Linked DNA regions of Homo sapiens: region 2 is linked to region 1. Evidence: fine-mapped expression QTL. A gene starts in region 1. The other region holds a variant in brackets. All regions are shown on one strand. Distances are between the middles of the regions. Region 1 holds the start of SLC67A2 (solute carrier family 67 member 2). Region 2 overlaps SLC67A2 (solute carrier family 67 member 2).

Region 1 (5,319 bases):
AGAGACTGAGCTCTATGGAAGGTAAGTATGAAAATACAGACTCAAAGGCAATAACTGATGATTGGTATTACTTTAGCACTTGGTGAGTCTGAAAAGTACTATATTCTTCCAAGGAGACTGGCCACTGAATCTTTCCTCTCAGGAAGTTCTGTTCTAAAATTGCCTTCTCCTTTACTATAAAAGGCAACTCCTTTCTGCTTCTCAATCCATAGCTTCTTCAAAATCGCTGCATTTGGCATCTGGTCATGTGCATGTAACCACTTGTAAAAAGATCATGTCAGAAGGGGCCACTTAAACTTTCACTGAATATCAACATTTTTCAATAAAAATTGATGAATATGTACACTCAAAAGTTTCAAGACTCTTTTCAGGGTAGGAACCCCAGTAATTATTGATTACTGGACTATCTCAATGAAAATGAATTATCACCTGAATAAAGCTGATGGGATGGAAAACAAATCTCACCAAGTATCTGGAGGAAAAAAGTGGTTGAAATAATAGATCTCATCACCATCTAAGCATCCTAAACAAAACGGGCCTCAAGGGTCATCTTGGTCTTCCCTCCTAAACAAATTAAAACTTGGAAGTACGGATAACTGCTAAAACAGAACAATTTGGCAAATGACTTCTCTAAGCTTGTTCCCTTCCTCTCCCATTCAGAAACCATTTGTCCAAGAATCTTAGAGGTCTCTACATCCCTAAATATGTCAAAAAAAAACTAAATTATGTATAATGTTCCTTAGATGTTACCTAACAATCATCTGTTAGGTAGCTTTATGTGACTTTCATGTAAAGCTTCATATATTTAATTGTTTACAATATTTTCCATTAAAAAAATCCCTACTCTTTCAACTTTTGGGAAACCATAAACTTTTCCCTTAAGATATGAGACACCTAATGGTTCTCTTGAATACATTATTAAAGTTATTAAAATTCTGTATCAGGCTTGCTAGATTAGACTTGCCAAATACACAGCATAAAGAAAACATATGATAAATTGTGAATATTCAAATCTGTATTGGAAGGCTGACCTTAACAAATGATCTGCGAATTGCTTTGTTTTATTCTAATACTAAAACTACTTTGAATTCTAAGTCAAATTCTCTGAACCCTAGTCTGGACTTTCCAGGTAAGGGCTCAAATGTTTTCATCTGGCTGAACCAGCCCAAGTCCCTTCTGAGACAGGACAGCAGTAGCTTGGGACCCATAACTAAAAAGGCTGGATGTCAGCCAACTCCTCTCCAAGAACCACCCATACTCACTGGTTGTGAATTCTAGGTGCCTAGACTGAAAAGTAGAAGAAGCATCCCCATGCTGAGAATGAACTACTAGATTAAAGGAATAGTGGTCAGAAGGAGTGCCAGTCTCTGAAGTTAAAGGCATGGAGCTGGAGGGTGGATCCTGCAATGGCCTAGAGGCAGAGAAATCCTCTCTAAAAAGCCGCCCTCCCTGAAGACCTTGTGTTTCTGGGCTTGCAGCAATTTGATGAACATGCTTTCATGGTGATCTTAACTATTAACTCAACATAGAGTTGCTACCAACTGAACGCCTTGCATGGAGGTGGTGGCATGGAGAGTGCATGAAACTGGGAGAAGTGGTGGTCTTGATCTGCATCTGGGCAGAAAACGATGACTCCCTGCCAGGGCCCAGTGCCATCAGATACTATCTTCAAGGCCTCAAAGGCAGCCTTCTCCCATTGACACTTATCGCAGCTTCCTTACCCTCAAGATACTGGATTAGCTCACACTCAGGGCTGAATCAGGCCTAGCCTTGGAAAGGGAGGAGTGCAGAGGTGGATCTAGGGTTCTTGCAGATAATGGCCCAGAAACTACCAACATCAGCTTACTTGTAAGACTGAATTCTTCTGTGGCAGAACTGTGGATTACAATAGTGAAGCTCCGCAGCACCTGCCACATGGCAGGTGTTCAGAAATGCCATGAATCAGCTTACTAAACTTTCCATTCTACGTGGGAAATTAGCACTCAGGGAGCAAACCAGGACACGCGCGCGCGCACACACACACACACACACACACGATGAAACCAAACCGCCATTGTGCAATGCACACCCTTTGTCCAAAGGTAGATGGGTACAATTCACTCTGATCTGCATTTTTAAACATTCAAGTCAACCGAGAGCTCTAGTGAAAATGCACCCAATTCTGTACAAGTGGGGTCATCAACAGCGGCTTCTCCAGCCTGGTCTGGTAAAAAAGCAAACCACAGGCACACACATCATGATGAAACCAAACCTACGCTGTGCAATGCGCAGTTTGTCGAAAGGCAGATGGGTAAAATTCACTCTGATCTGCATTTTTTAATATTTAAGTCAACCAAGAATCCTAGTGAAAATGTGCCTAAATCTGTCCAAGCGGGGTCAAGAGCGGCCTCCCCTGCCTGTTCTGGTAAAAAGGCTTGCGTGTCCCTACCTCACCAGCAGCCGCACAGCAGCTGGGCTTTTCCAAGCTTGCCCACACCCCTGTTCTCCGCCCTGCAAAAGCTGCACCTGCCACAGCATTTAACACCTGGTCACACCTGAGGTTGGTACCAGGGCTTCTCAAAAGGCAGGGAAGGGAAGACGTTCCGCGAACGGGGTGCAAGAGAAAGCGCGAGGGGCAATAAAGCAGTGTGGCCAGATGCAGACTGAAGTGGGTGATAGGGCAAGAGGAGAGCTTGATAGGTAGTGAGGCACTCACCAGGCGGACTGCGGGTTCCCACTCCCTGGGAGCTCCCCGGAAGCTCCAAGAACCGCCTGGGTCCCCAGGCCCGAACACAGTCAGCACTTGCTCCCAGCCCCCACGCTCGCACTCACCAAGAAGCCCACCAAGTAGAGACAGAGCAGGAAGCGGCGGGCTCCGACGGCACCGGAGTCGGCAGCCTCCGCCTCGGTTCCTGTCTTCTGCTCCTGTTTCCGCTCTGCGGTCTCCGAGACCAGCCTCGGGGCCGAGTTCATGTCCCAGTGACCCCCAAGCTCCATACCCGCGCCGGCCGGGGGTCGGACGCAGCAGCAGCCGCGGACCTACCCCGGGAGCCCAGCCCCGCCCCGAGCGGAAGCAGGAGGCGCGCGCCTGCGCAGAGAGAGGGGGCGGGTGCTACCTGGCAGCTCCGCGGGTGCGTGGCCGGTGCTGGCTGGGAGTTCTGGTCTCAGGCAAGGTGGGGACTGGGCACATCATCAATACGGTAAGCACACACCAGTTTGTGATGATAATGATGATGCTCTTTGTTTCCTCTGGGTACAGACCCTGCTGCCCCTATCGTTGGAGGACAGGAGGGAATTGTATTGAGCTTCACTTCCTCCTATGGAGTTGTGCTAGGAGGTGACCAACTCCAGCTTGAAGATCCACAGACCCTGGCCACCAGTTGGTTGTGACAGACCTAGGATACGTTAACGTGGCTCTCCAAGCTTTCGTTTGCCTATTTAAAAAGCAGTAGGAAATAATGTAGTCCAACTTCTAGAGGTGTGAGAATTCTACACATGCTTCTTAAGATCCTTTCTGGTGCAGTGCAATGTGAACAAACCATAGATGGTCTATGCCTGAGTTGAGATTACAGTCTCATGGAGTAAAAATAATAAGCACGCAGTAAATAAACATAAATAAAAATACTAAACATGCAATGAAAAAGCATAAAATAAGTAAAATAATATGGTGATAATATAAAGAAGCACGGTCTTGATGTGGAAAGTAATGAGGTGGGGAGTGAGCTACTTTAGAAAAGCAGTTTGGAGGAGGTGACATGTAAGCTGAGAAGAGTGGAAAGAAGATATGTGTGGCTGAAACTTCCTCATCAAACTGAGAGGTCAGCAGGAGTGCAGACCATTTAGGACCCAGAAGGCCATAACAGAGATTTGGGGTTTATTCTGAGTGCAGTGAAAGGAATTAAGTGAGTGCATGACACCAAAAGATGCCTTTAAATTACTTAGCAAAGCCCATGACACATGGTAAGTAATAAATGTTAACAATAGTGACTAGCCCCTCTTTTCTTTAGAACTTGTTATTTATTCCTCTTTCACTGTGGGATCAAGAAGACTCTGACATTTTACTGAGATTTTGCTCAAAATCTCAATTTACTTGTGTAGGTTGCTAATTCTGAGATCTGTTAAATTCAGTGTTGCAAAGTTTCTCATGGGAGGTGGCACTGAATAGGGAGAAGTGGAATACTGATACTTAGAATTAAGACATATAATTGAATCCAGGTGAAACTGTCAATCGTGAACCCCCAAGTTATTCTGAGACTCCTTTGCAGGAGAACTAGTTTGCTCTCCTATAGCTGAGGAAACTAGTCTTTTTGTGCTTGAAATTTTGTGAGTAACTCATCTGGGAAAGGCGCCTTGAAAGGGCTGCTCATGTTAACCCATTAAAACCACTCACTGTGGCTACTAAATACATAGCTAGGGTGAAATTTTAGCATGCTCTGGTGACAGGTACACATTATAACCTAGGAGGACATCTCATACACGCCAAAAGAATTGGAAGTCACGGCCAGGCGCGGTGGCTCACACCTGTAATCCCAGGACTTTGGGAAGCCAGGGTGGGCAGATCACAAGGTCAAGAGATCGAGACTATCCTGGCCAACATGGTGAAACCCTGTCTCTACTAAAAATACAAAAAATTTAGCTGGGCGTGGTGGTGCGCGCCTGTAGTCCCAGCTACTTGGGAGGCTGAGGCAGGAGAGCTTGAACCCGGGAGGCAGAGGTTGCAGTGAGCTGAGATCGCCCCACTGCACTCCAGCCTGGCAACAGAGGGAGACTCTGTGTAAAAATAATAATAATAAAAGATTTGGAAGTCTCTGCTAATATATAATCAATGTAAACTTTAGAAACCTGGGGGAGAGATTTCTAAGGGTGTCAGACAAAAAAAGGGAATAATATAACACTAAATTAGGCAGAATTCACTAGTATAGATGCATTTACAACATATACCGATGTAATATGTTAGCTTGTGCAGCTGGAGGCAGCTCTAGTAGTTTAGTCAGTTGGTTGAAATTTAGACTCAAAGATGGCCTATATTTAATGATGTTCAGATGCCAGAGTTTTCCTGGCAAAATGTGGATAAAGGACTCCAAAAGTTTTGGAAAAATGACAATGTCAGAGTGGATTTATTATGTATGACTTGCAAGCCTAATACTCAAATATATTCCACGAAGAGGCCAAGACGACACTTCCTGCACTAAGGCACTGAGGAATGTATTAGTGAGAGATGCACTTGCAGTTTTGAAAAGATTTGCGATTGCTCTCTTTTGTAGGCCAGGTATAGCCATAGAGGATACCACCTTTAAGATAAGCTCTCTGATTATATGAGGAAAAGATTTCCAGATTATC
Region 2 (5,315 bases), 21 kb before region 1:
ATTCCAATTATTGCCTTAATAATTTTTAAAGATTATGCAAAGATGTGTATTAACACATCAAATTTTAGGTTTCCATGAATACATAGTTTGGCATCTGATTAATAAATAATAGATTTGCTACCATAACTATGTCTTACTATTGAACCTTTAGTTTAAGTCCTGACCTTTAGCTAGAAAGTTATTTTGAATGGCAGTAACAGTTCATCATGCTTTCAGTGCTATTCACTCCAAAGAGATGCACAGTGAAGGTACTTTGAAGGTGCCCCAAAGAAAATGCTCACCCTTGTCAGTGACGTCACAGACTGGGCCTGACAGATGTTAGGCTTTGAGATGGCCAGGCCTATGCTTCAGCCCCACAGAACAGACTACTTAAGGCAAACACCTACCAAGTCGCATACATACAGCCCCACAAGGGTCCAGCCCGAGTCAGCGGCAGAACACCTTTATTAGGTTTGCTTTGGATATTTCATGTGGTTTCAATTTCATTAAGCAAACTTGGGACAGGTTTAGGTAGGTAAGCTATCACACAAAAAACTAGTTCTGTCTGGATAAGAGGCTGTGTCTCAACTACTCAAAATGGCATGGAGATTCTTTGGTAAGCTTGAAGGAAGACTGTCTCCTATCCATGTTATAAGTTGCAATCATTAATAGGTATTTTAACCACTTTCTTCCTCTACAGTGGATGCTTAGAAAAAAGAACTGTATCAAGATGTAGTATAAAGACTGATCAAAATACAATTCTTTGTTCAAACAAGATCCTTACAGTTCATTCTTACGCTGTGTAAGTTATCAGCAATAATTAACACTCCTTCCTTAATGTTTATAATTATCTTCTCCCTGGAAGGAACAATACAAGCTGTGTTAAGTCACTTTTAAAAATAAGAATCAGTGGCCAGGCACCGTTGCTCACGCCTGTAATCCTAGCACTCTGGGAGGCAGAGGTGGGCGGATCGCCTGAGGTCAGGGGTTTGAGACCAGCCTGGCTAACATAGTGAAACCCTGTCTCTACTAAAAATACAAAAATTATCTGGGCGTGGTGGCGCGTGCCTGTAGTCCCAGCAACTCGGGAGGCTGAGGCAGGAGAATTGCTTGAACCCGGAAGCAGAGGTTGCAGTGAGCCAAGATTGTGCCATTGCACTCCAGCCTGAGCAACAGAGTGAGACTCCATCTCATAAATAAACGTTTCTTATAATATACTGAAACAGGAAAACAGAAGTTTTGCTTTTATTGTTTTAGTAGACAGCTATCTATAAAATGGTGTTTAGATACCTGTTTGGGAAAAATGAGAGATCTAAGTATTTGTGCATCTGCTTAACTAGAAATAAATCCTACTGTGAGATGTTACCTTAAAAGTACAGTTGACCCTTCAGCAACACAGAGTTGAACTATACAGGTCCACTTAAACGGGGATTTTCTTCCATCTCTGCCACCCCTAAGACAGCAAGATCAATCCCTTCTTCTCCTCCTCCCCCTCAGCCTACTCAAAATGAAGGTGGCAAGGATGAAGACCCTTATGATTCCATTTCCACTTAATAATATTATTTTTCTTTTTCTTAACATTTTTTCTCTAGCTTACTTCATTGTAAAAATACAGTATATATGTAACACACAAAATACATGTCAGTCGACTATTAATATTGTTGGTAGGGCTTCATGTCAACAGTAAGCTATTAGTAGTAAATTTTTAGAGAGTCAAAAGTTACACTCAAATTTTCTACCGTTTTGGGGGCTTGGCACTCCTAACCCCTGTGTTGTTCAAGGATCAACTGTCCTCTACTTACTGGCCTTCAGTATAAATGTCAGATTACATATATATTTGGTATCTGCATAATGGTTTTAAAAGCCAAAGCCTTGTTTTTAATATTAAGATGTGTTCTAGCATACTGGAGATGACATTTTTCAAAGCACTTCTGGATCCTGAATTGAAATATGTAGCAAGACACATCAGTGACTTCTAAAAATACAACTTATAAGAATAAATGACAGTTCCTCATTACAATTATAAAGTTTTATTTTTGAAGAAAATTATCATGTGACTGGCAAATTCAAGAAAAAAACATTAGAGCTGAAAAAAAGTTATTTTAATCCATCAACCTGTTCCAAGAAAAGCTGCTACACATCATCCTGGCTAAATCTGTGGTAACCCTGTTTTAGAGACTTCTTGAAGGCTACTAGGGGGCAAAGAGGCATGGAGATTCAGTCTCATGGCTTTTATTATGCATTCCAAATAAATAGCTGTTTTCTGAATGCAGTTGCCCAAATGCCTAAAATTTTCTGACTGGACTGATTCTCACTCCTGATAGATTTCTAAATACCTTATAGAAGTGTCTTCAGGAAAAGACGCCAAGCAACCCTTTGAAATTCCTCAAAGCTGCACACTCATCACCTGGGAATTATTCACAACCTCTCCTGCGATTGCCCTGTGGGCCACAACCTCTGCCTGCTGTCCCTGTCCTCGCGACCAGCTCTCCCTCAGGGCCCCCCTAAAGTTACTGCCCCAAAGTCCAGACTACTCCTTGGGCCTCCAGTTAATCCTCCT[T/C]GCTGCGGCTAGAGAGCTCTTTCTAAAACAGGAGTGTCTTCACAGCACTTTACCGCAGGAATTCTTCCGTCATTCCCCTTCATCCGTCAATACAATCTCAACCCGAGCATGGCAGCCGAATCCATTCTTGATCTAACTCAGTGATTCCCAACTCCAGATGTTCACAGAAACATCTGTGGTGCTTCAGAGTCTGGTTCCTGTGGTCTAAGGCATGTAGCCAGGATACAGAATCAGTGATTCCAGCTCCTTCTGTTGGCCCCAGGTGCAACTCTTGCAGAATTCACTCCCCAAGGGGCCATCCAGCCTGAGTTTGGAGCCTTGCAGGTGACTCCTGTGACTAGACACACCCTGTACCTTTTCAGAATGTTATTCATCCCTCTAGACATGAGGGCAGAGGCCTACCTTCTGCTCTATGGAACCCAAATCCTGGAGACCTGTTCCCAAGCAGTTATGGCTGGCAGAGTGTTGGAAAGGGTGACACTTCCTTCAAAGACATTTCAGGAAGGTTCAATACTCCTAAAATAAGATTCCATAGAATAGTGAGTTGCACCCTATGAAGATATTTTTGACTTACAAAAATAGCAACTTCATGTGGCTCAACCTGACACACTGGAAAGGGCTACAGAAGTTACTCAAGAGAATTTAAAAAATGAAACACCACAAATGTCAATTGAGCAGATTTAATTTCCCTGAGATTATATTCCATAAGTGATACAAATACTACCCCTTAGACCAGGGGTTTTCAAAGTTTGCTGTGCAAAAAATCAGCTAGGTATCTTATTAAAATGGTCCCCAACATGTCTGAGCTGGAGCTTCAGTGTTCACAGGTCTCAGGTGATGCTGATGCTACTGGTCTCTGGGTCACACTTTAAAGAGGAAGACATTAGATAAAGTAAAAGGAGTCATGAGAAAAGGTGCACCTAAAAAACATCACATAACAAAATACTAAAGTCACTAGTGGAGAATAACAAACATGTCTCTCTACTCTATATTCTAAGATCAGTCTTTGGTTTTCTATATTTCCATGTGTCTGATTATAAAGACTCATTAAGTTTATGGGCTTTTTAAACTTCAAAAATAAAGTGCTACGATTTTTAAAATAAAAACACGACTATAAGGGCTTTTAAGAAACTTGCCTGTTTCTGAGAGTGAAGGACAATCTTTGAGATCCAAACTCTTCTGAAATTCTATTTCATTGCATAAACCCTCGATTATTTATTGCCTTTTGAGTCTAATCTCCATGAGATTTAATTTGCTCCTTAAGGGCAAGGCCATTTTATATATTAATAATAGTTTGGTCTCCTCGAAAGCACTTAACATTTACATAAAAGTTCACAATTGTAAAACCTAATCAGAAGTCCATTTTTCCTTGCAGCAAGATAGGAAAAAGGACAATCTTCAAACTAAAACATACTTCCAATTATTTATCATAAATATTTGATTTTACTCCATGACTTCTAAAATACAGAAATGTTTACTGCTTTACAAACAATAAATATTAAAGATATGACAAATTACTGTAGCATACTAAAATATTTACAAGTATGCATGTGTTAAGTTGAAAACAGGCATACCATCCTAGTGGACTAATTAAGAAAAGTAAAAGGAATGTGAACTTCAACTGTCTGACAGGAAGCCCTTAAGTAACTGATTAATACTTGATGCAATCCCAATGGTCATCCTGCCTGGCATATGTCTCCCTGCAAGGCTATGTTCACCTTCTGTCTGGGCCTCTGCCTCTCGTGGCCCCCTCGGTGCTGTATATGAAACTTGTTTAGACAAGAAATGGCACATCAAAATATTTCCGTTGATCAACAGAATGCTTGTGTTTGCAGGCGTGAAACTAAAAATAAAGGAAATGATTCTTTTTTTTTTGAGACGGAGTCTCACTCTGTCGCCCAGGCTGGAGAGCAGTGGCACAATCTTGGCTCACCGCAAGCTCCGCCTCCCAGGTTCACGCCATTCTACCTCAGCCTCCCGAATAGCTGGGACTGCAGGCGCCCGCCATCACGCCCGGCTAATTTTTTTTTTGTATTTTTAGTAGAGACGGGGTTTCACCATGTTAGCCAGAATGGTCTCCATCTCCTGACCAAGTGATTCACCTGCCTCAGCCTCCCAAAGTGCTGGGATTACAGGCCTGAGCCACCGAGCCTGGCCAGGAAATGATTCTTAACACAAGACACAGTAGCATCAAGTTCTGGTCTGGCATGACTCCTGACCCTTATTCTGCATAAACTGTTCATTTTTAAAGCATTCCTGTGCTTTGGCTTCACCACTGGGTTCTGTCAGCACCAGAAGGATGCAACCTGACTGGAATGCAGGCTTCCAGGAGCAGGCTGTGGCAACCCCAGCATCTAAGTGGTTTAGTCCAACTTCAGAGCAAGCTGGGCTCTCAGAGGCAGGGAGCACAGGGAACAGGTCCCAGGGGCCCGCTGCTCCATCATGCAGTACAACTGCTGAGAGCTGGGAAAGGTGTAACACACTGTGATTACAAACACAATTTTAAGAGTCCAAATTTAGTTAGCTGTGTAAAAACAGCCAAGCCTATGTACTTTAATCAAAATCAGTGCAGTCTCAGTGTGGTCTTTACTGCCATGAGAAATCGCCAGCAGTGCTTACAAAACACCACGGATTTCTTGGCCCCACCCAGGCCCACTGAATCATCTCTAGGGGTGAGGTCAGTATCTTATTTTTAAGCAGCTTTGAAAAGCGACAGGCTGGTTCTAATAAACCAGCTTCTTCAATCTGCAGGATTTTGATAGAAAACTCCCTCCTA

What was found. PIP is the estimated chance that this variant, and not a neighbour inherited with it, causes the effect. A credible set is the group of variants that fine-mapping cannot tell apart.
Region 2: its variant is the best candidate, but not a certain one, in a credible set for the expression of SLC67A2 in whole blood (TOPMed, PIP 0.62).

What each region holds. Positions count from the first base shown.
Region 1 is chr2:102,733,835-102,739,153 of GRCh38, forward strand. SLC67A2 (solute carrier family 67 member 2) reads right to left here and starts at 3,054. Exons shown (of 6, transcript NM_032718.5): 1 at 2,812-3,054. The coding sequence starts at 2,976. It also overlaps a transcript of TMEM182 not described here. RefSeq lists a silencer at 2,961-3,170.
Region 2 is chr2:102,712,637-102,717,951 of GRCh38, forward strand. It overlaps SLC67A2 (solute carrier family 67 member 2), which reads right to left. Exons shown (of 6, transcript NM_032718.5): 6 at 1,994-5,315. Among named protein-coding and RNA genes, the nearest start is that of SLC67A2, 22 kb to the right of the region's middle. The variant T/C (reference allele first, on the strand shown) is at 2,540.